6 separate regions of the Homo sapiens genome follow, and regions 1, 2, 4, 5 and 6 are each reported to be linked to region 3. The links are microRNA targets in miRTarBase. Many come from high-throughput screens and were not tested one by one. Region 3 holds a microRNA gene; each other region holds the end of a gene's coding sequence.

Region 1 (4,090 bases), not on the chromosome of region 3:
TAAGCTGAACTGATTAGATTTCATTAATGGAATTACATATTTATGAAGGAAATACAAATTCTCAGTCCAGGATTTAAGTATTTCTCTTAAAGAATTCTACCTGGGATTATGATTAACTTAAAATAAAGAACCCAGATGTGCCAGCTCTGGGCAGATTTTGTGCCAGCTTTAGGCAGCTTCAGATTTTGAAGCTTTGTGGAGGCAGAAGTCTCTCCATATTCAGATACATGACATTGGCTGTAAGAGCAACTGAGGGCACTAAATAGTGATCACGTTTCAAATACAGAATTTATAATTAATTTTAAATTAATTTTCAGATTTAGTACTAAAGAACTTGACCAGATCAATGGATCCAAAGGATGTGCTTATTTTCAAAAAGGAAATATTTATATTTCTCGCTGTAGTGCTGAAATTTTTTGGATTTGCGAGAAGACAGCTGCCCCAGTGAAGACTGAGGATTTGGATTAGTATGCTTCTTCCAAATTCTCCAAGAAGTAAGAGACTTGTGAGTAAGCTCATATGAGGAAAGAGGAAACTACGGTACCAGAGCCAAACCAGCTTTTAAAATGACTGTGTATTTACATTATCAGACAAATGAACTTGTTTAACAGAACATTCTCCAGTTCCTTGTCTGACGTCTTCTGATTTGATGTTATTATTCGGTCTTAAAATTATACCTGGGGACAAAGGGGAATAGCCATACTATGGCCCTATGATTGTCTCAGAATCATTTCACTGAATTTCTTTGCTTTCTCAAATAAAGACTCCTTTCTTTCATTATTATTATACTGTCACGTGTGCACTAGGGTGATATTTAAATATTTAAAAACTAGGGTGATATTTAAATATTTAAAAACACAGGCCACAGCACTAGAACAAGGTCCAAGAGATGCCTGTTGTGATAGTTGCTGGGTCATGTGGAGGTCTGGGGGATCCCAGGCTAAGGGTCCTGGTAGCTGGGGCTGCAGCACTGTATCAACTGATTTGGAAATATTTTATTTTAGCAAATGTTTGTACCACTGTGAACCAGCTAAGTGTCGCCCTGCACTTGCAAAATAGCTTTTCTTCTCCAACAACCCTATGAAAATAAGCGTTCTTATTAATCTTTAAAATTTAGATAATTTATAATCTAGGCATAATAATTTAATATTTACTTTTTTTTGAGACACTGTCTCACTCTGTTGCCTAGGCTGTAGTATTGTGATGTGATTGGCTCACTGCAGCCTCAATCTCCTGGGCTCAATCGATCCCTCCCACCTCAGCCTCCCGAATACCTGGGACCACAGGCATGCAACACCATGCTCAGCTAATTTTTGTATTTTTTTGTAGAGACGAGGTTTCACCATGTTGCCCAGGCTGGTCTCAAACACCTAGGCTCAAGCTATCTGCCAGCCTCAGCCTCCCAAAATCCTGGGATTACAGGTGTGAGCCACTGCCCCTGGCCAATATTTATGTGTTTGTCATTTATTTAAATTAGTAATATTGATGTTATTGATTTTGTAATCTGGGTATTATTATAAAAATATATTCTCTTACAATTGATATTTTGTTTCCCTCAGAAAAGTCCTAATAAACTGTTTGAAGACATCAAAATAGAAGAACCATTATCTTTAATTATTTAGACCTTTCCTGAATCACAGTTTGTCAGTGTTCCTGCACACTAGATGCTAAATATTGTAAATCTAGGGTTCAAGATTTTTCCTGGAACAAAATTGCTGATTTCAGAGTACTGGTAAAGGATGTAGTTTTCCATTTATCTTCACATAGTTCCATAGCTATATATAGGAAGAAAATAATGATAAATTAGCCTTTGATACTGATTTTGCTAGATCAGAAATCTAGAATTTACTGGAAAATTGATATAATCTAAATTCAAAGTTAGATGCATTTCAATACTTTGACAGTCCTTTGAAACTACCACTTCATACATACCATCTAGTAGCTTCTTATTCTCTAAATATTTAAAATTATCAACTAATCAATGTTTTATATAGGCACCAACAGAAACTCTAGAACAAAGGAAAAATGTCAAGTGTGAAAATTTAGTAAAAATTACAAACAATATATTTAAGCACAACTTTTTAAATACAGACAATTATCATAGTTCAAGTAAACAGTGTTTCTTAGTTCTTATACGGGATTCAAACATAAGTTATATACACATGGATTAAAGAAGAAACTTGATTCTTCCATTTCTCTTTAGCAGTTTGCCCCTGGCATTCTCACAAAGATAAAATTATTTCTTAAAGGTCAAAATCTGTGCCTCTGACTCTCACACATTTGGGTTTCGTTTTATTCCCATGAGAAAAATAAGTTCTTTCATTCCTCTATTTCTAATTAAAAAAATCTACTTTTAATAATTAAAATACCTTAGTTGGTTATTTTGTTCCTATTAAGAAGTTACAGGTTTTTTTTTCTGGTATCTTGTATATTTTAATTCTCATTTCATGTAAACTCTTTTATACTCATTAAAAGAAAATTTCTGTTTCTGACCTTACAGTGCTCTGGATCTTGATCAGCTCCTATTACTAAGAGCTCCCTCCCTGCTGCCCTGCTATCATCATATTATCCCTGACGACCTCTACAGTAGATGCATAAATCCAGAGTTCTCAAGATTCACTAGCCCTTTGTGTCAGAATACTTCATCCTTTGATTCTGATAACTTAGCTTATGAGACAGGACTTGATTCCAGAAATTTTCATCTCTTTCTTTTTCTTTCTTTCTTCCTCTCCTACTGCCCCTACACCCTCTCCAGTCAAAATCCCTGAGATATTTTATTTATATATACAGGTATATACAAATGGTATATTTTTAGGGGAAAGACCATTGATATGGTTTGGATCTGTGTCCTTACCAAATCACATGTCAAGATGTAATCCCCAATGCTGGTTGTGGGGCCTGGTGGGAGGTGATTGGGTTATGGGAGCAGATTTCTCATGAATGACTTAGCACCATCTTCTTGGTGCTGTTCTCATGATAGCGAGTTCTCGCAAGATCCGGTTGTTTAAAAGTGTGTAGCATCCCCACCAACCCCACCCCACACCCTCTCTCCTGCTCCTGCTCCAGCCGTGTGAAGTACCCACCCCTCCTTCATCTTCCACCATGACTGTAAGTTTCCTGAGGCCTCCCCAGAAGCCCAGCAGTTTCCAGCATCATTCTTCCTGTACCGCCTGAAGAACTGTGAGCCAATTAAACTTTTTTCTTTATAAATTACCCAGTCTTGAGTATTTCTTTATAGCAATGTGAGAATTTAACATGGGTTCCAAACATGGCTTCACATCAGATTTACATGGATAGTCCCTTAAAGGCACAGATATTTGGGCCACGCGTCAGATCTATAAAATCAGAATGATTGGAAGACAGAAATGGAGAATCTGTAAGTTTCTCAAACTACACAGGTGATTTTTATTAACACAGCCTGAGTGGCAATGTTTGGATAAATAACCTCAATACTAACTCCCTGAGCAAATAGGCCCAGAGGCGAAGGTGCTGGAACCATCTTCAAACTGGATGGCTCTTTCTGCAACGTTAGCAAATTTGGTTTGGTTTGTGCAGACCACGTTAGGTCAGGACAGATCAGAATTGGGACAGATATAGTGACAGTTCTCAACTATTTCACTGTTGTAATCTTAGCCAACAAGCCCTTACTGAGGGTATTAATTGGCATGGTTGGGATGGACAAGTGATATGAAGTTTGATCTGTTTAGCTCTCTGAAAATAGTTCTCAATTTTGCTGCACACTGAAATTATACTGGGGAGCTTTGAGGAAATACTGATGCCTAAGATTGTCCCACCTCTTAAGATGCTGATTTCATTGATGAGAAGTGTAGCTGGGCTATTAAAAAAATTTAAATTTCCTACATGATTCCAATCTGAAGCTAAGGTTGAAAATCCTTGTACTGAGGTTGGCCCAATGGCCCCTATTTTCAGTAAAATAGCCAACCCTCCATTATATATTAAGAAAACGGGTGAACTAGCTCCATTGGTGATGATTACACATGGTTGAGACAGGGACAATAATGATGATTACCTGAAACTAGGATTGATGGTATATTCGAGGCTGCATACAAGCATATATAATCATACTTGT
Region 2 (4,089 bases), not on the chromosome of region 3:
GTTTTGGATCTCATGATCCAATGTATTTTAGAATGTTTCTTTGTTATAACTTTTTACAACATGATTATGATGACATATTGTTAGATATTTCTATTGTTCCTGGAGGCTAATTATTATTTTCTGGTTTTTTCTCTGTTTTTTCTTTATAGTAACAAACTTTTTTTTTTCTCTTTACAGTGCCATTGATAATAGTAAACTCAATTGCAATTGTGTTACTTTTATTATTTGGATGAATATCAGTGGAGAAAATGGAGACTCAGAAGAGGACATGCCAGTAGAAGTTATTACTTTGGTCATTATTGGAATATTTATATCTTAGCTGGCTGACCTTGCACTTGTCAAAAATGTAAAGCTGAAAATAAAACCAGGGTTTCTATTTATCTGTTTTTTTTTTTAATGTTGCACTTGTAGTTTCATTACAAAAGATCAGATCATGAAAGGCAGTAACTCTCCAGGACTGGAATATCTGATTGCTCAGTGTTAATAGTAGTTCATGCTGTGGTGAGATTGTTAAAAGGGTGCAAGACTGTTGCTTCTCTTTTTTTAGATATTTTTCTATCTCTCACTTCTCAGGGATGAAATTCTTTTTCAAAGTTTTGAAGTTCCTTGCAACTTAGCCATGATGTGAGTGGTTATCCCTAGATAAAATTAAAAGGATTTTTAAAAAGTAATTACTGCACATAAAATGATAAATAGGTAATTTGAATAATTTTATTTTAAGCTCCTTGGTTAATTATTTTGTCTATTGTCTCAGCTATAAATTCAAATTTATACATACTATTGAGTATTAATATTCTCTGATTTCAGGGAGAATTCTGTCAGTCACATGATGATTATGTTTTTGTTTAACATTCTTTCCATGCACTTGTTATTTTATTAATTTGCCTGAATGATGAGACCAGACCAGTGTCTACAGATTTTCATTGTCAGAAAAATCTATAAGTCTGCCCTTTTTACAATGATGATTTAAAAAAAACAACAGCGTAAATATTAGCCCACAAGAGCAGTCCTAAACAATCACAATTACACTGTACTACCCAAGAAGACTGTTTATTGTGAAGCATTTACCTTTCAAAAAATCATTACATTTCTATTTCTTGGTGGAGCAGCACATTGTGGAGTGTGATTCTTAATTCTTCATTGAGTTTGTCAATAGGACATTGATGCTGGATAGGTTGTCTTTTGTTTTTATGTCTCAGACCATCTTGTGAGATTGTTTGCCTATCTCATAATACAGTTTTATGCAGAAAGGTTGAAACTATGTAAATGGTTTTTATGGAAATTATCAGTTACAATATTTTAAAGGTGTAGAATGGCATCTTTGTTTATAGGAGAACATTTGTAAATAAAGTTAAATTTCTAAGTCAAGCACTTGTTTTTGTACCTTAGTATAAACCTGTCAGTGTTAACTGCATTAATCTCCATTTTGGGTGAACACCTCTTATTATATGTTCTTTGCTGTAAAATTGCCGAGTATAGAGTTAATGAAAGTAAATATTTACATGTATTTTTTTTTCTTCAGTGAATTAACTGAATTGCTGACATACATCCAGAAGACTCATGAGCACCTTTTATTTCATGACTTCAGTTACTTCTAAAACTATGGAGCAGGTATTAAGTACCTTTTGGCCTTTCCTAAGTTAGAGATCAGTGATCTTTGGACTATAGGCTTGCAGCTAGTCCAAGGAAAGTACCAAGGATTCTTAGTTGATTACTTGGCTCATGTGAATGACTAATTTGGTACTTAGAGGCCGTGTTCTTTTAGCCTTACAAAGAACTGATGCCTGAGTTCAAGTTTGAGCTACTGAAAAGATTCAAAAGAAGCAGTTACTTGAGGGCAGGCCCATTTCCCCATATGGTATGAGCAGTACAAAATTTTTTAAAATGAAAGAAAAGAGAGACCTTGATCTGATGTTATTTTTCATATAAGACATTACAGCATACCTTCATCTTAATTCAGTGTTGGGATTTTGTCCAAATATTCCATCAGGGAGCAGTCACAGAAGGGCCAGGATCAAAGTATTCTGTAGCCAAGTAGTTCTGAGGAAAGTGAAGCACTGAACTGAACATCAAAATATGTCATATCTGGAGGCCACTTCATAATTCCAGTTTGTGGCTGAAGAGGGGTCTGTAAGCTTTCACTGGTCAGCCCTGGTTTCCCCAGAGCAGTTGTGATTCAGTAAACAGAGTGTGTTATTTTAGTAGACAGTAACTTAAGTGCCTGTTGGCCTGCCCATGTCCTCCCCTTTATCTATTACCAGGATTAACAATTTGTGATGATTCTGGACTCCAAATACCGATGATGTTTATAGTCCTTATGTATTCTGGCCCTGTGTTTGCATGTCTCTGAACTGTGCGAAGGTTCTTGGCTCTAGTCTGTAGATATTAACCAAATTCATCGCTAATCAAGTACAGTGGTTTTCAAACTTTTATAGTTAACAGCAGAACCAGATTTTCAAAGGAATTCTGACACAGAACTGTAACATTCCCGTATCTAAACCAGATGAGAGTAGGTCCATTTATTTGTTTTTAGTTGAAGTAGAGCTGGGATTCAAAGGCTCACTATTCAGCCTCCACTGCACTCTTGTCAGGCTTCCCAAGGCATTTCCATAAAACCCTAAATTTTCAAAAATATAGCTAAAAAGTATCTTATAAAAATCCCTGCTTTAGCCATAAAAAAGAATTAGATAATACCTTCTGTGGGAACATGGATGGAGCTGGAAGCCATCATCCTTAACAAACTAATGTAGGAACAGAAAACCAAATACCACATGTTATTACTTATAAGTGGGAGCTAAATGATAAGACCTCATGGACATAAGGAGGGGGACAACAGACACTGGGGGCTATTTGAGGGTGGAGGGTGAGAAAGAGTGCCAGAAAAATTACTGGGTACTAGGCTTAGCACCTGGATAACGAAATAATCTGTGCCAAACCCCCGTGACACAAGTTTACCTATTTAACAAATGTACTGTACCCCTAAAAGTTAAAAAAGTAAAAATATAAAAAAATAAAATCCCTGCTTTAGGGAGGGTGGGAGGGGGTGAGGGAAACAGAAACTACATACTGAGTACAATGTACAGTAGTCCAGTGATGGGTGCACTAAAATTTCAGACTTTACACCACTATACAATTCATCCATGTAACCAGAAACCACTTGTACCCCTAAAGCTATTGAAATAAAAAGCTAAATGAGTTCCCCCACCTTCCTCTCCCCATCAAAATCCTTGCTTTAGATACAATAAGAGTAGGCAATCTGTGTTCTATATGTGTTAGATGTGTATTACTGGTGAAATGACAAGAGAAAGCAAGATATTTGACTAGTAAAAAGACTAGGAGGCAAGATATTTCTAATATATCAAGCAAACCTTTTACCATGTGACTGAAAGCAAATAAACTTCCTAAGACCTCAGTAGTTTTTGGTTGTCCTATCTGTAAAATTGGTCAATAACCTTCAGAACAGAAGTCTGGTCCAGATATATATATATATCTTTTCCAGATCACTAATGTTTGTATCTAGATGTGCTTCAACCAAAGAGATGTTCTCCTTAAGTAAAATGTTTCTTATGAAGCAAATCACTTTCTCATTGATTTATTAGTTTCTAAGTTATTACCAATGTAACATTTTGAGGCTGGGCATGGTGGCTTACGCCTGTAATCCCAACATTTTGGGAGGCTGAGGCAGGCAGATCACTTCAGGTCAGGAGTTTGAGACCAGCCTGGCCAACATGGCAAAACCCTGTCTCTATTAAAAGACAAAAGTTAGTCGGGTGTGGTGGCACATGCCTGTGATTCCAGCTACTTGGGAGGCTGAGGCATGAGAATCGCTTGAACCCGGGAGGCAGAGGTTGCAGTGAGCTGAGATTGTGCCACTGCACTCCAGCCTGGCTACACAGTGAGACTCCGTCTCAAAACAACAAAAATAACATTTTGATACCAATGGTAATGGAATTCTTCTTTGCTAAGATTTCTCTTGGCCCCTGATTTTTCATTAGAAGTCAAATATTGTGAAAACATTCGATGCAAGGACCTGGGACACAGTGGGCTATGTCCAAGGGTATCAACGATCAAGATAAGTTTTTCCTACTG
Region 3 (4,090 bases):
TGTAATACTTCAATTACATTATTCATTCAGGTTCTGTTTTGGATTATAGGCTGAAAATTCTTTATTAGTGTAGATGTAACCATGCTGCTGGAGTTTTAAAAAATTTACTGATTGAATAATTAATTGGAAAAGAACAAGCTGCAGATTCCTGATGGATTTATGAGACAATTATTCTGTCTTGTGATTATCTACATTATACTATAGAAGCAATGAGGGAAAAAATCTTATTGAAAAGATAGTCATAAATACATGATCAAAAATATCCTCAAAAGTTTATTTTTTAATTAAAAACTCAGACATTTTAGAGTTTAAAAAGTAGTATGTCAGATTCAAAAAGATACATGTCTTTTTTCTTCCTATAAAAATGTTTTTACAGTACTCTACCTTTAAATACAGTACAAAGGAAAAGCAGAAATAGCTTAGCAGAGTTTAAATATAATCTCTACCAAAAAAGTAAATTTTGAATGATATTAATTGATAAGAAATATCGAGACATTACGAGAAAATTAGACAATATAGTCGTCTTCTGTCTCCTCCCCAACTACAAAGCCAAATGTTCGTTTTTTACCTAAAGAAATAGAGGGAGAGGCAAGACTGGCAATCATTAATCATCAGGCTATACAGGGGCCTTATTAAAAAGTATCCCACAAACTTTCATTAAACTAGAGTTACCCAGTTGATTACTCTAAGTTTCTGTGCAAACATCAGCTGAATGAGATAAAGTATATTCTTTTCAACAGTCTGTGTATCTGACTACATTATTAGGTTGAGCTTAAATCTCATATATTTTTGAGGGAAACTAGTCTTAATTTTCTATAATCACCCACTTCTTTTTGTGATAAGCTCTCTAAATTAACATTATGTATAATGTACAATAAAACATATCAATATGTGAAATACATCTTAACTGAAATAACCAAAGAAATAGGACAAAATTGGCTATAAAAATACCATGACCTTTATGACAAAATATTTGATAAAAATCTATTTATATGTATCTTATGATTGATCTGCCTTCTTCAGCACACCACATACATTTCTATTTGTGATTTGTACGTTACTACTTTTCAGGTTGCTCAAAGAGGGTTTCCTTTTAATATCTGTAAACCTATCACAGAAAGAAATTCTCTCTGGCTTCAGCCCCAAGGCAGTGATTTGTGCACTGATAGGTGTACTTTGTTTAGTGTCACCCATGGTGTAGATTGGATAGATTTTGTAAAAGATAGCATTACTTTAAAAGAAACATACAATTTGACAAGCGATTACATTTTACTTTCATTTTATTGCCGTATTTTTCATCACACTCATTGTTTTCTAACTGTCACTAAATTGTTCATTTTCTTAGTCTGTTACATTGGTAGAGCTATTTACTGTTTATAAAGCAATATGCACTTACAGGTTTGGGAGATGGTTTGGGCTCTGAGGGTCGCATGTGCAAGTGGGTCATCATTGCTTGAAGACGTTCGCGTTCTTTAGAAAGCTGTTAAGAAAGAGTGAGATCAGAAGCGTTTTAGAAATGACTGATACAGCTATTTTATTGCAGTGATACATCTTATCATTGAGCTTGCCTCAGAATAATGATTCCTGCATGTAAAAGTCTGCGTCAGGAGGAACTTATCTGGGAGGAAATGCAACTTTAGCTATGGAGGGGGAAAAACTTTTATAGCTTTTCTTATGTTAAAAGGTCAGAGAAAACAAATAACACTTCATCTTTTTGTCAATAAGAGAATTGAGGTCACAGTTGCCTCGACAGTAACAAGTTACTGAAACCATAAATTAGAAGGCCCATGGTGTCTCTTTAAAGTCCTGTGGACACTGTTAGCAATGGACTAGTGCCAACAGCTGTGAAGGGGTGAAGGGTTCTCAAAGCAAAGTGCCTGCCAGGATTGTCTACACACTTCATGCATTCCCACTGAGGTCCAGTTAGTGCCCCCTGCAATCTGCCATCATCAATCTAATTCAATAGAGTGACAGAGACCAGGCAGTGTGAAACGCTGAACTCTGCCACGGAGTCGGCATCTACACTTGCACTGGGTCTCATTACAACTGACGGACCTTACTTTTCCATCAGTCAGACACAGCAGAAGGAAAAAAAAAAAATAGGCGTAATTGGTCACACCGAAGACTGTATCATCAGCTGAACTCTTATGTTTTAGTCTACCTTTTATAAATGGTAAACAGGTTTATAAAAAGCTTTTTAAACTTTAACAGTGATGGTGCTTTTTGTGTTCTTGATTATTTTACAAGTCAAAACAAAATATTTTTAGTAAGCTCTCTGAAAAAAGCAATGACACGAATTTGAAACAAGATGTAATAAAATATGAAGAAAAATCGTATCTTTAAATGAAACAAAGTATTAGTTTCATTGAGAAAAGATCATCTTTAAGATGAAATGTTAGAGAAAGCCTTAAAGGCTTAGTAAAACATAACAAGAGTCAGACTTTGGGTGACATAATTGCTTTCTGATTAGTTCTATGGATTCTATTTACTTCTGGCCAAATTCTGTTTCAACATTAATAGAATTTTTTTTAACTTAAAACAGTCGCATTTGATACAACATGTGTGTATTATCATCTGTGATATAAATTATCTGCCTTTAATCTAGCTAAAGAAAAGTATAAAGATTTTTTTGCAAGTTCTTTAATTAAAATTACACTAGAAAAAGAAAAGAAAAGGTTATCTTTCAGGGTGTTAGTTATATTACAGGCATGATATTGTAAAGACTGGTCATTTGCCACAATATAAAATCTCATGGAAAAAAATCAAGGTTAGCTCATGTAAAAACTCTCTCTGTAATAAAATCATATCTAATTGGGAGTTTGGTCTAACCTGCATTGGGAAAAACTTAGATCTGACTACTTTGGGATATTCAAATTCATATGATGTGGTCTAAAAGTTATAAAAATATAAGTGATAAGTACATTAAACTACAGCAATCCTTCCTGGGTTATCAATAATTGCCACTGTTTAAAACAATCTAAAATATCATGTATCTCCATTAGTATTGAATGGCTAAGACAGTAAAATGCAGGCTGAAAGACCCAGAATCTGCTCAGTACTCAATGTAACACACCAGAAATCTAAGAAGAGTCCATTAAGTGAGCATTTAACAAACCTGTATTTCTAACTGTTGCACCACCTGCATTTGCACTCGACACTGAGCAGTGCTTCGGTCATCCAATGCGTGTTCATTGTTAAGGTGCCTAAACAAACAGAAGACACAAAACAGAATGTAAAGTGATGTCGATCTTAGTGGCATAGGCTACACTTAAAAAGCACTACACTGAAGTCAGATGTTTCTGTGCACTGGGAAAACAGAAAGCCTTGAAACCATACAGATAAAAGTTAAAGCTGCTTACGTGTTGTGTGAAAATTATTTATGTAATGTAAAGAGACTCTTCAAATGGCAGAAAATGTCACTGTCTCTAAGCTTACCTGTTATTACAAAAAATATTTCCCCAGACCATTTACAGAGTTATAGTAGAAGTCATATTATTTATGCCATTTTTTTAAAAAGAACAGCTTACAAATCTATGAACCAAAAGCAATTCTGAAGAGAACAAAGGCAATTTTCTATTTCATTGTTAGAACAGTTTGTTGTTTCTATGATGTATTTTAGTGAGCAATGTTTTATTTCATTGGGATGTGGTATGAATTAGGTAAAGATGGCAAATTATCTCCCGTGGAAAATCAATATTTATGAAGAATGATGATTTGCTGTTAGTAATAAAGAACTTCATTGAAGATTTTGATCATTAGAATAACAAGATTGACATTTCATGTCCAGTGTTCTAACTAGGAGACATTTGTCCTAATCTTATTTTTAAAATGGTGAAAAATAAATCATTCCAAATGATCTCACTCTAACCTTGAATATGCATTAGTCTACCATTATTATTTCTATACGATGTTTAAAGAGATCTCTTTAATGAGTGGTATGTTAATACACCAAAAGTAATTTAGTAAAGCAGCATCTCCAATGAACATGAAAACATTTAATAATATATACTCTGTAATTTGTAATACATAATGTCTTTGATGCTTCCCAAAATTAAAGAAAGTAATCTTCAAGTAATTCAATATCCTTTAG
Region 4 (4,090 bases), not on the chromosome of region 3:
TGGGCATGGTGGCTCATGCCTGTAATCCCAGGACTTTGGGAGGCCGAGGTGGGGGATCGCTTGAGTCCAGGAGTTCGAGACCAGCTTCAGCAACATGGTGAAACCCCATTGCTACAAAAAATACAATAATTAGCTGGGTGTGGTGGTATGCGCCTGCAGTCCCAGCTATTTGAGAGGCTGAGTTGGAAGGATCGCTTGAGCCAGGGAGGTCAAGGCTGCAGTGAGCCTTGATCATACCACTGCACTCCAGCCTGGGCAACAGAGTGAGACCCTGTCTCGAAAACAAACAAATCACAAAACAAAAAAAACAAAACAAAACGGATTATAAGGTTAGGGCCCCCCCCCCACCAACCTTTTTCTATGCCCAAAGTAAGTATTTGTTGAAATACAACCTCTTCTAGGATAGACATCACATTGGGAGACATGTGATTTGTTAAAATGCCATCACAAACTGTTTAAAATCAGTAGCCATAGTATCTATATATAGTATCTATGTCACCTTCATCAGTTTAAATTTAAGACTCCAACAGGTTAATTTGTCTTTTTCAGTTTAAAACTTAAGATCCCATGAAGTGGCCGGGCGCGGTGGCTCACGCCTGTAATCCCAGTGCTTTGGGAGGCCGAGGCGGGTGGATCACAAGGTCAGGAGATCGAGACCACTCTGGCTAAGACAGTGAAACCCCATCTCTACTAAAAATACAAAAGTTAGCCGGGCGTGGCCGCGTGCACCTGTAGTCCCAGCTGCTGGGGAGGCTGAGGTGGGAGAATGGCGTTAACCCGGGAGGTGGACCTTGCAGTGAGCCGAGATCGCGCCACTGCACTCCAGCCTCGGCGACAGACAGAGACTCCATCTCAAAAAAAAAAAAAAAAAAAAAAAAAAAAAAAGTCCCATGAAGTTGGAAATTTCCAGTCTCTGTCATCTGAAAATCAGCAGTGAATGAAAAGGAGGCTTTAAGATGATCGGGATCCTAGATGCTCTTCCCTTTGCAGTAACAGAAGCTAATCCAATCAGTTCAGTATAGCAAATAATAAATTTATTAGGTGCCTACAAGTACAAAATACTGAAAGCCGCTGCAGGGGATTATAAAGATGTGTAAGAGACAAGCCCTGCCCTCAAAGAGCTTACAATCTAGGCAATTAGTCACACAAATAAGTTGTGATGGCGCTCTAAGTGACCTCAGCAGAGTTCTTGAAAATGTTCATATCCTTCAAATTCTTCTCTTGTCAAATTAAACAGTGGGAAAGAGAACTTTTGTGGCATTCACTGGTGACCCTGACTCTGCTTGCAAGCATCTTTCTGCTGTTGCACGTTGTCGTCATCCTCTCAGCGTCGTTTCCTAACTGGACCTTTGTTGGAGAGAATCTCCGTGCTTCCTGAACCTTCACCAGGGTTTCCTGTTTGGGAGTGGGTGGCTCAGTTGCAGTTTGGCCTTGGAATGATTTGCAGTCCGATTTTTCCTTCAGCAAATCGCTCTTTTGATTGTAGTTGATGCTAAAATGCTATGCTTTGCAATCTGTGGTTTTAAGGGTGGGAGTGAGATGCAATATTAAGGAAGGCAGCCCAGACTTTTCCCTTACTTTAAACATTTAATAATAGTGCACTTATTGATTATAATCTGTACAGATATAGAGCAAGTTATAAACCTCTTCCTTTTATTTATTTTCTTCACTTAGACTGTATTCACGTAAAGTGTATTTACAATAAGAAGAAAAAAGCCTTGAGGTACAAAACCCAAAAGAATATCTGAGGTATAAATACAAGTATATCTTAAATAATAATCTTTATCATGCTTTATCTATGTTTGAAAGCACAGTGGACATGTTTCTTAATAGAATGGTATATACAACATACAATCTTACAAATCTGGAAGCCATCAAAATTGAATATCCATGTATATCTTCATGAGGAACACTGATATCCAAAATACTCAAATTTTAAAACTCTAATCTGATGCCCTGCCCCAAAATTCTTCAAAGAACCTTTGAAATAACACTGAAAATGGTAACTAAATTATAACAAAATAAAAATCCTTCTTACAGCTCTCATTCATACATTATTCACTTTTGATCCATACACAATAAATTTACTAATACTGTCTCTTGAGTCAATCCTTACCATTACAGTAAAACCTGAATAAAGACCACCCTTCTAAAGGTTCTAAAAAACTTCACTGGTTTGGGTTGGTTTTCTTCTTGTTGCGTTTTACTATGATTACTATTTTTCATTACCACTTAAATATATTTCCAGGGCATTCTAAAGGAAAAAAAAAAAAAAAGAAATGTAGGAAAAATAAAATAAGACAAAAAGTCATAAAACCAGAAAACCTATTTGCTGATAAGAACAAGCCCAATGAATAAACACATGTGGCTTTCAGGAATGCCGTTAACAACCAAAGGCGGGGAAAAAGCCTTTTGTAGGTGAGTTAAATTTACAGGGATTTCCTTGGGACACACATAGTTTCCTATATTCCCAAACATAGTGTCTTAAGGCGTTTCTGTTACAAACACAAAAATGCAAAGAATTCTAACAGGGAAAAAGTGTTGATGCTTGATTTAAGAGTAAGTGTTATCGTGTTCAGTTTTTATATCTCGACTTAAACAAAAAACAAAACAAAACAAAACAAAACCCTGTGGATCAGAGCCAGTAAGGCTAGAGGGAGCAGTTCATCCCTGAACTAATCCATACTGGTTAAAACTACATCACTATTTGCAATCGGGTCTAAAAATAAACTGCATTTGGAATGGGTGTAAGAGCCAACCTATTACAATCAAAGTACAGAAGAGGTTCGTGGAAAAGGAATATGCTTAATAACTTCGAAAAAAAATACCCATAAATGGACAAGGGTGTTGGGCCCCCTTTCTGGGTGGATTCAGGGGTAGTCAGATATTCCAGGTTAAACTGAACCTGATGCATCAATCTCCTTCTTGGAGGTGTCTCAGTGTGCCAGACACTGAATCCACCTTAGACATCTATTGCCATTCAGCCAGCAACAAACACACATTCACACTCCTCTGTGCAAACCTTTCTTTGCTCATCTTGGTGAGAAAACACATCCAAGAGTACCAACTATTCCAGTGGATACACCAGTCCCTCAACACACTGCAAATAAAGCGACACAGGTACGCATACACTGATATCACAAGAGAATGAAGTATCTTCATTATCTTCCATAATGTATTTAAAGAGTTTTGCTTCTCAGAAGCAATTTGAATAAGAATACACATAAATTTTTTTTTTTTTTTTGCACAGTCTTACATATTCCAGTCAAGGTCTATGAATACAGACCCTCAACAAACAGGAAGCAGCTTTAAAAATGTATCAAATTGCTATAGTCAATTCCTACACTCCAGCTTGTAGTTTTCTTTGTTTCAGGATTAGACACAGAACCCATTCTTCAAGGACTGGCAAAAGTTCTAGAAACAAACACCATGGTGGTGGAAGCGGTTGCGTTGCTTCAGTGATCACCTAGATTTGGTGTCTTTGGTTTCAGTGTTCTGGTTACTGAAGGAATCCCGGATCTTTACAACTTCAGCTGCACACAAATGTCCAAAAGATTTTGTGTACCATTCTGGCATGTGGCCCCTATCAGAGAAAAGAAAGAAAAGCTGATGAATTATTTAAGTTAGAAAGCATGGAAATAAAATGAGAAACATCTGTTTGCTAGTTCAAATGCATAAAATCTATCATTTCCCATGCCTTTGAATTCATGGCCGAGCTACCATATTTGCTTTGCTTTAGAACCACATTTTCTAAGGGAACCAAATTACGAAGTGGTCGCTGAAAGACCAACAAACATGAAATGCTACTTTCTAAACACCATTCTTCATGAAGTCACCAAGAAAAAATGACGTGTTTGTTTAAGGCATTCTTTGCATTAGACAAAAAGTCAGAATTTCCTTCATGACCCTCACCATATAAAAAAATCAGAATCAGAACATACCTTAAGTCAACTCTGCACATGTAGGTGAGTTTGGATTTTCCTGGCCCACAGGGTTCAATCAAATACCTGGACAAGAGCACATTAACCCTCACACCCACCACAGGTGCGCGATCGTGATCCACAGAGGTTAGTAAAAGGGCACAGGCTCC
Region 5 (4,090 bases), not on the chromosome of region 3:
ATCATTACAAACTTGCTAATTCCAGAAACAATGTTCAGCAGGTTGATTGTTGTTTGAAATGTGTTAAATGCATAAATTATTTCCCAGGTGACCAGTTATCTAGAGGTAAACTTAACTGAAAATCTTGGGCCCACCAGTGCTCAGGAACCACTGTGGCTGGGGGAAGACAAGACGTGGGAATTTACAGAGGCATAATTTCAAATCTGTAGCCCTAGAGTCCAGTAGTTCCTCAGAAGATGTTGATAAAAATACATTGCCTAGCATTTGATAAGCATTTAATAATTTTAAAAAATTTAATAAATTACCAGAATGGCAATTCTATTCCTCTTAAGTATAGAAGGATCGCTGTATCTCAATCTTTAAGTTTACAATCCAGAAGATTTGCCTATTTCGAAATGTGGTTCAGCCCCTTGCTTTATATAATTCTTACAATATACATTGTATAAAAGCAAGGATAAACAAGGAAAACAATTAACTATCATTGGCTATTTTATGCCCAATTCCACAAATGATTTTACTAAACACAGAGGACATTTGATGCAGCTGAGAAAGGATCTGAGGGCCAGAGTTTGTCCTTAGTGGGAGAATTTAAAAGCTTGCACTGAACCAGAATAAATAAGTACAATGGCAAGCAGGAAGATAAACCACAGGAAAACAGGACCAGTCCCTGTAGAAGTTCCAGACTTTTGAGGTATGTTCAGACAAAGCTGGCTATTAGACCAAAAATAAGCTGCCCCTGTTAACAAGTGCTTCCTGTTCTTGTCAGGTTTGGAGGTAGTGGTTACCAGGGCTCGGTCCTGACAAGCTGCTGCTCTGTGGGCCAAGCTTCCCCTTAGAAGCTCTGAGTACCTCTGAGCCTGTGGGAAAGGTCACAGTAAGAGTTCTGTGCAACCACCGTCGGTAAAACCTTTGGAGAGGCAGATGTCGACTATAAGCTCCCACCTCAGAGAGCAGGATGAACCTACCCAGATGTTTCCCAGGCCAGGCCTTTAGGCCTCTGGAAAACAGCTGCTGCCGCAAACACAGCTCCACAGCCTGCTGTTGCCTCGTGCTAAACCCAGCACTAGCCACTGGGGAGCAGCCTGTCGCTGTCCCACAGGCCTGCGCTAGCTTCCAGGGAATTCTTGGAGCTGTACTAATACTGCAGAAAAACTAGTTTAGCCTTGGCTTTCAGAAGATGCCAGTGACAATGGAGTACATTGCCCTAAAGCAGTATTTTCAAAATGTGCATTGTGGAATCCATTTGGTCTAAGATCAAAATAAATTTTTAATGAAACAGAAAAAGGTCAGAGTGCATCACACATATCATGGATAAACCAGATTTTGGTTTCTAATACCACTCCCATTAAAAGAAGCCAGGGCTCCTTGCAGAAATAGCTGATTCCAGGGCTAGGGCAGGATAAGCACAAGATAAGCCTGAAGCATCTTGTTAGGATAGAAATAAAAAAGAAGTACTCAAAAAAAAAAAAAAAAAAAATAGCATATCACCAGGATGTAGGAGCCAGCTTGAAGGGTCTCTTGTCTAGCTAAAGCTGAGACCATTTGTGCACCAAAATAATGAATTGGAACCACTGAAAAAGGCCAGGCTTGGTGGCTCATGCCTGTAATCCCAGCACTTTGGGAGGCCAAGGTGGGGGGTTTGCTTGAGCCCAGAAGTTTGAGGCTGCAGTGAGCTAAGATTGTGCCACTGCACTCCAGCATGGGTGACAGAGTGAGACACTGTTTCAAAACAAAACAAAGCAAAACAACAGTCCATGAGTGTATAATGAAAATTAAATGAATAAATTGGGAAGGAAGGGCTTCTGCTTATAGTAGATTACCAAGTGCAACCTGTAAAGCTGGAGAATGCGCTAGAATTGGAAAATCATTTTGCAAACATAGTAAAAGATCAGTGCAGGTAAGAAACATCAATGCATGCTAATTTAACGGGACACTTTCATAGGCAAGAGATTTGCATGGTCTGAAAGTCTACATATACTGGTTATAAGTTCCAGGTAGGGGGATATACAGAGAAGTTGGACACCTTGACCAAGTGATCAAAATTTACCACTATCAATGAGGGGGCAGATGGATATCAAGTCATTATGGGCAAAAACACATAAACTGATTCTAAATATGAGGAAATATCAAACTGAGTTGTTTTCTGTTAAAAAAAAAAAAACAGGGTGGGGTTGGGGGTGGCTACATTCACCAAAAATATCAATGAGGCTGAGTGCGGTGGCTCACACCTGTAATCCTAGCAGTTTGGGAGGCAGAGGATGGCGGATCACTTGAGATCAGGAGTTGGGAGGCAGAGGATGGCGGATCACTTGAGCTCAGGCCTGGCCAACATGGTGAAACCCTGTCTCTACTAAAAATACAAAAAAATTATCTGGGGGTGGTGGCGGGCGTCTGTAATCCCAGCTACTCCGGAGGCTGAAGCAGGAGAATCGCTTCAACCTGGGAGGCGGAGATTGCAGTGAGCCGAGATTGCACCACTGCACTCCAGCCTGGGTGACAGAGCGAGACTCCGTCTCAAAAAAAATACATATCAATGACATAAAAGATCAAGATGAGTCATGACAGCCATAGCCATGTCTGATTCTATACTGGAAGGTTTACTGGAGGGAAAAAATGCTACAAAGAACATCACTGGGCAGATGCCAGGTTAAAGTATCAAATCCATGTTTGACTGAAGTAGAGAACTGTCCTACAGTTGTGTAAGAGAATATCCTTATTTTTAGGAAATAAGCATTTAGGAGGAAAGGCCTATGATGTACGCAATTTACTCTCAAATGCCTCAATTTTTTATGGAGAAGGAGAAAGGGAGAGAGAAACCCTGACAAATCAAATGGGACAAAATGTTAATAAGTGAACAAGAGGGGAATCTGGGTAAAGTGTGCGTGGGGTTTTTTGTACTTTCAACTTCCTAGAAGTTTAAATTATTTCTCAATAAAATGTATTTTTAAATTCCTCCAGTATTTATAACTAAAAATGTCCTGGGTGTATTCCATCAGCATTCACAGAAATACCCAGTTGAATACCTGCCATCCACACGGGCAGATCTCCAGCAATCCTGAACTCACCTCTGCTCTCCACATGACATTTACACTGAGTTGCCCTTCCGAAACTGGAAGAGTAGATTAAGCCCTTGAGTCTTCGATTCACTTCAATGAATAATCTGGTAAAAACAAAAATCTAAGTGTGACTTCTACTTGATAAACAGCTGTGATGTAACTGGGACAAGATCAGTGTGGAATTATCCTTTTTATACCAATTCTGTACAAAGAGTGCAAGAACTGATGCTTTATATTTTATTTCCCCTCTGCCCTCCCATCCCACCCTTGGTGATGGTTGTACCCATTTGAGCATTTCTGAGCACATGACCATAAGTAAATCTTGAGAGAGGAGCGGAATTCTTGTCTAAACAGTAACAGAAGGGGATTAGCTGCAAGGATAGCATAACTGTTGTGCAGGAACAGAAGCTGCCCAGATCTTCTTGGTGGACAATGCATAGAAGACTTAGAATTATGGAACATCGGTCCCCCCAACCACCCTTTCCCACCCGTCTCCCAAACCCCCACTCCCACCCTATTCCCCACCCCATTAATAGTGTTAACAAAAGCTTAATCTTCCAGTTTTAAAGTGCAAATGATTTGGGTATGACTGCTGTTGCAACAAGTCTGAACAGAAAAAAATGAAGTCTTCTCTGTTTATACGATGTTTTCCAGAATATAAAAGATGAGTTCCATGACAACGGGGCCCTCACTAAGCTGGCAGGCCCCTCCATGGATCACCGGCACCAAGGCGCTGTCCAGATCATTCATGTACTGCGAGGGAAGGGGCTGGCCATTGCTCCCTGCTTGATAGCCAACCTATACCACAGAGAGAAAAGGAGGAGAGGTTACTGAACAGAGAAGGCCTCTCCAGGGCTGAGGGCAAGGAGGCTGAGCAGGAAAGGAGATGTCCTTTTTGGCCATAGGCTAAACATATGGCAGTGAATACAAATTTATCCTCTTTTCTGGGTGATCACTTATCCTGTTGTTTACTCCTCCTGACCACTTGACAACCATGAGGCACTGGGTAAGCCACTTAACCTGTTATGGTCTTA
Region 6 (4,090 bases), not on the chromosome of region 3:
GCACGTCGCTGCACGTGGCCTGTGAGCTGGCGCGCCCCGAGTGCCTCTTCCTGCTGCTGGGCCACGGCGCCTCGCCCGGTCTGCGGGACGGCGGCGGCCTCACGCCTCTCGAGCTGCTGCTGCGCCAGCTGGGCCGCGACGCCGGGGCCACTCCCTCCGCCGCCGGAGCCCCCGCCTCAGCTCCCGGGGAGCCGCGCCAGCGCCGCCTGCTGCTGCTGGACCTCCTGGCGCTGTACACCCCCGTGGGTGCCGCCGGCTCGGCCCGCCAGGAGCTGCTGGGCGACCGGCCGCGCTGGCAGCGGCTGCTGGGTGAGGACAAGTTCCAGTGGCTGGCGGGCCTGGCGCCGCCCTCGCTCTTCGCGCGCGCCATGCAGGTGCTGGTCACCGCCATCTCTCCAGGCCGCTTCCCCGAGGCCCTGGACGAGCTGCCGCTGCCCCCATTCCTGCAGCCGTTGGACCTCACTGGCAAAGGCTAGGCCCGGAGCACCCTAGGCGCTGGATTTTGGGACAAAACTATTTTTCAGAGCGTTGTACCGGCACTTTATATATATTGATCTCTGTACGGCACAATCTCTGCCTCATCTGTCGCATGCACTGGGGGCTGGGCTTGGATGGTCAGGTGAGTTCCAAGTGGCAGGTTTTCTGGGTGCAGCTGGGCTCGGGCCTTCAGCTCGCTGTCCAGCCCCTGAAGGGAGTGAGGACTAACCTCCCACCTTGATCTAGAGCCTCGGACAGGTGTGCGTCCCAGATGGGTGACAGCTGAGTGCCGCAGGAGCTCGGTAGGTGCAGGGGTGGGGACTGGCATGTCCAAGCAGCAGGACAGCGTATAAAAAGGCCTGGAAGCCAAGAGAACGAGCTCTGCAGCGTAGGGTTCTCACGGGAGGTCCTGTGCGGTCAGCCTTTTGCACCCTGTGGACTCCGGGCCAGGGAGGGCACACAGGGCTGGCAGGCCCGCGGTGGCTGGTGTTGAGGCATGAACAAATTGTACCGGGTATCCCCCACCCCACTCTGACCACCAGTTCCTCCTTGGATATCACTCCCCCTGACAGGCAGCCCACCCAGGCCTGGATTTGTCCCTGTCTCCCCCTTTTGCTTTTCCCCCATGACTAATGGGCACCAGGTCTTGCTGCTCCTGCTTCTCACCTCTGCAGTGGCAGCAGGCCCCTGGCCCCAGGTGCATGCCGGTCAGTGGGGTTGGATGTGCCTTCCTCCAGGCCTGCCCTCTGTCCAAGCCCGGAGTGGGCTTGGTGGGCTCCCTGGTGGCCCCCAGTGGGTGCCAGGTGGTGCCCGGGGTTATTGAGGGGTGGTTGTATCACTGTAGGGACAGGCTTCTTGCCCCAGCCTGGAGAGCTGTTTTCTTCAGGAAGGTTCTGGAGATGGAGACTTGTTTGCGAATTCACCACAACTCCAGGCTGGGAGGCTGGGTCTCCGCTCTCAGAGCCGAGACACCAGGGAGGATAGCCAGGCTGCCCTGCCTGGGAATTCTGCTGGGCCGTCAAATTCAACCCGCACCAACGTGGGCAGGAGGGCCACAGTGTCCTGCCAGGAGCAGAGGGCTGAAGGTCTGCAGGAGGAAGAACCACTATCCTGGTGGGGGGCACCTGCTGCCCACCCTGCCCCCAGCGTGCCTGGGGGGAGCACACCTGGGCATGGAGGAGTCCAGGGTGCTGGGCCACACAAGAGAGGTGGGGGAGAGGCCTGGACAGTAGGAAGATCTTGCCCAGGGTCCTGGATCCGCCACTCTGGGGGTGACCTTGGACAAACCTCTGCCTTGGCCCTCAGTCTCCCCATCAAGGTTTTTCCATTCAGGAGGTTTTGGGCCATCTTCAGCCACCCTACCAGCCCTGAAAAGGATGTGACTCCTGTTTCTGGGAAGTGTGTGGTGTGTTAGGTGGGCCTACAGCCCTGGTTGTGGGGAGGGAAGGATGGAGAGACAGCACAGTGACAGAGCCCAGACTGCAGGCTGGAGTGAGGGTTCCACTTCCCCGCTGCTGTGTGTCCTGGACCAGTGCCTCTGAACCTTGGCACTTGGGGCAGTGGATATTAACATCTTTCCAAGCCCAATTCTTGGGGCATCAGGGCCTCCGGTCCTCTGGGAGGTGGCAGGTCCTCAGATTGGAGATGCCATGGGGGGGGGAGGTGCCTCTCCTTTGGAGGGTATGGAAGTGGAGACAGGAGTGGCCTGGCGCAGCTGCCGTGGTTCTTAGGGGCTGGGCCCGGGGAGCCCATGGGGCTTGTGCCTAGAAAGCCTGGGCTCCTCACTGGGGTCTAGATGTGCAGACTTCATGTCTCCCCAGCTCCAGCTCTGTTCTCTATAGGTCAGCCTCCACAATGCCAGAGGCCCAGGGCTAGCCCCCTCCACGTCCCTCCTAGATCTACAGCTGCCCCTTTGATGACAGCGCCATTGAGTCCCCTGGGCTGGGGGGGTCATGCAGGGGTGAGGCAGCTGCCTGCCGCCGGTACTCATTGCCTGGCCAGGCAGGACACAGGCTGGCGGGCACTGAGAGTGGGCCCCACGAAATCCATTGTCAGGTTACCAGGATGAAGAACCCAGGCTGGTCGTGGAGTGCAGGGCGGGGCCTGCCGGAAGAATTATGGGCACTGCAGCAGGAGGGCAGCCTGGGCCATTAGCTCCTGATGTCATCGATTTGGGTGAGGGGACAGGGAAGTCAGAGGAAGCTGGCCAGTGGCTCTCACGAAGACTTACAGCAGCGGAGTGGTGCCTGATTCCTAGTACAGCTGCTCCCACTGAGTCTCCAGGGATCTGTGGTTCAGGACCCCCTGCAACCCCCTCCCAGACCCCTGTACTGGTGGGAGGAGAGGACCTAGAGGAAAGGTGCTGGGCAGATAAGCAGCCGAGGGAGGCCCTGGGTTTAGCTTATCAGTCTTCTGGGCCCTCCTGCCCCAGGAAGGGCAGCGAGGACCATGGTGTTGCCCCTGTCATCGTTATCGTCCTGGCCATGAGCTTGCAGGACTGGGAGGGCCGGAGTCAGCCAGGCAGACGGCAGCACAGCATTTGCCTGTTGGCAGGTGGCCTTGGTGGCTTCCCAAAGGCAATCGCTCCACGCAGAACAAAACTCACTTTTTTGGGGGGTGAAGCACCTTGGTTCATTTGTTTAGTTCGTTAATTCCAGCAGTCTGTTTCTAAGGGAAACATGGCTGCAGCCGGTCCTGCCCCTCCACCCACCCACCAGGTGCCCAGTGTTCCCAAGGGCCCCGAATCCCAACCTTATTCAGGCGTCAGCATCTCTGCACCCCAAATGCCTGTTAGGGAGGATAGTGAAGGCTGAGCCCTCCTGGGCTCATCAAAAGCCAGCAGTGAGAGAACACCCCCATCTCTCTGAGGTGACCTTGTAGGGCAGTCCGTGCTGTCTGGCTGGCCTGGGTGAGGTGGGCAGGGACCAAGGCCTGGCGCCTGGGCCTCGCTGGCCTTGCTCTGCGTGCTGACTTCATCCTGATAGTACCTTGATTTTCCTACTGTGACTTCCCCTTCTGTCGACTTCCTCACCAACTTTAAAATTCCGTATTGAGAGCAGTTTCCTAAGTTACCTCAAATCCTATTCAGAAGAAGGTTCTTCCTGGAAGTTGGGAGGGCGGAAAACAAGTTTAGTCACAGAAGACTACTCCATGTTTGAGCTTCTGTTTCAAGGGAAGTGAGTAACTGCCGGAGGAGCCCTGCCCCTCTGCAGTGTGTGGTGTTGCCCTGATACTTTTCAGATTGAGGTGTTACTTACATGTAATAAAATGCACAGACTTAAGTGTATACTTTGATGAGTTCTGATGAATGTCTACATGTGTGTAATCACCACTGCAATCAAGATGGAAGGAAAGGCTGGGCGCGGTGGCTCACACCTGTAATCCCAGCACTTTGGGAGGCCAAGGTGGGTGGATCATGAGGTCAGGAGTTCGAGACCAGCCTGACCAACATGATGAAACCCCGTCTCTACTAAAAATAAAAAAATTAGCCAGGCGTGGTGGCAGGCACCTGTACTCCCAGCTACTCAGGAGGCTGAGGCAGGAGAATTGCTTGAACCCAGGAGGCGGAGGTTGCAGTGAGCCAAGATTGCGCCATTGCACTCCAGCCTGGGCG

The links. The annotated mature microRNA hsa-miR-3666 reads CAGUGCAAGUGUAGAUGCCGA and lies in region 3 at 2,013-2,033, opposite strand. An mRNA with a match to its seed (bases 2 to 7 or 8) in the 3' UTR can be bound and repressed. Matches are read on the target gene's strand: a 7mer-m8 pairs with bases 2 to 8, a 7mer-A1 pairs with bases 2 to 7 and ends in A, and an 8mer does both.
Region 1: miRTarBase lists CLEC12B as a target of hsa-miR-3666. The part of its 3' UTR that is shown has no 7-base or 8-base seed match.
Region 2: miRTarBase lists IER3IP1 as a target of hsa-miR-3666. Seed matches in the 3' UTR shown: 7mer-m8 at 330-336, 7mer-m8 at 400-406 and 7mer-A1 at 3,099-3,105.
Region 4: miRTarBase lists DLC1 as a target of hsa-miR-3666. Seed matches in the 3' UTR shown: 7mer-A1 at 1,595-1,601.
Region 5: miRTarBase lists ZFYVE9 as a target of hsa-miR-3666. Seed matches in the 3' UTR shown: 7mer-m8 at 3,624-3,630.
Region 6: the mRNA of ANKRD9 is a reported target of hsa-miR-3666. Seed matches in the 3' UTR shown: 7mer-m8 at 4,072-4,078.

Annotation. Positions count from the first base shown.
Region 1 is chr12:10,018,014-10,022,103 of GRCh38, forward strand. It overlaps CLEC12B (C-type lectin domain family 12 member B), which reads left to right. Exons shown (of 6, transcript NM_001129998.3): 6 at 318-783. The coding sequence ends at 468. The region is part of intron 2 of LOC102724020 (a long non-coding RNA gene); the gene reads right to left. Among named protein-coding and RNA genes, the nearest start is that of CLEC12B, 9.4 kb to the left of the region's middle.
Region 2 is chr18:47,152,321-47,156,409 of GRCh38, reverse strand. It overlaps IER3IP1 (immediate early response 3 interacting protein 1), which reads left to right. Exons shown (of 3, transcript NM_016097.5): 3 at 178-3,576. The coding sequence ends at 233. Among named protein-coding and RNA genes, the nearest start is that of HDHD2, 3.9 kb to the right of the region's middle.
Region 3 is chr7:114,651,316-114,655,405 of GRCh38, reverse strand. It overlaps MIR3666 (microRNA 3666), which reads right to left and starts at 2,061; the gene lies at 1,951-2,061. It overlaps FOXP2 (forkhead box P2), which reads right to left. Exons shown (of 17, transcript NM_014491.4): 9 at 3,116-3,203; 10 at 1,397-1,480. RefSeq lists an enhancer at 1-352.
Region 4 is chr8:13,082,349-13,086,438 of GRCh38, forward strand. It overlaps DLC1 (DLC1 Rho GTPase activating protein), which reads right to left. Exons shown (of 18, transcript NM_182643.3): 17 at 3,942-4,090; 18 at 1,013-3,583. The coding sequence ends at 3,463. Among named protein-coding and RNA genes, the nearest start is that of TRMT9B, 140 kb to the left of the region's middle.
Region 5 is chr1:52,345,824-52,349,913 of GRCh38, reverse strand. ZFYVE9 (zinc finger FYVE-type containing 9) reads right to left here. Exons shown (of 19, transcript NM_004799.4): 19 at 3,280-3,854. The coding sequence ends at 3,693. Among named protein-coding and RNA genes, the nearest start is that of CC2D1B, 18 kb to the left of the region's middle.
Region 6 is chr14:102,503,322-102,507,411 of GRCh38, reverse strand. ANKRD9 (ankyrin repeat domain 9) reads left to right here. Exons shown (of 4, transcript NM_152326.4): 4 at 1-4,090. The coding sequence ends at 476. Among named protein-coding and RNA genes, the nearest start is that of ANKRD9, 4.4 kb to the left of the region's middle.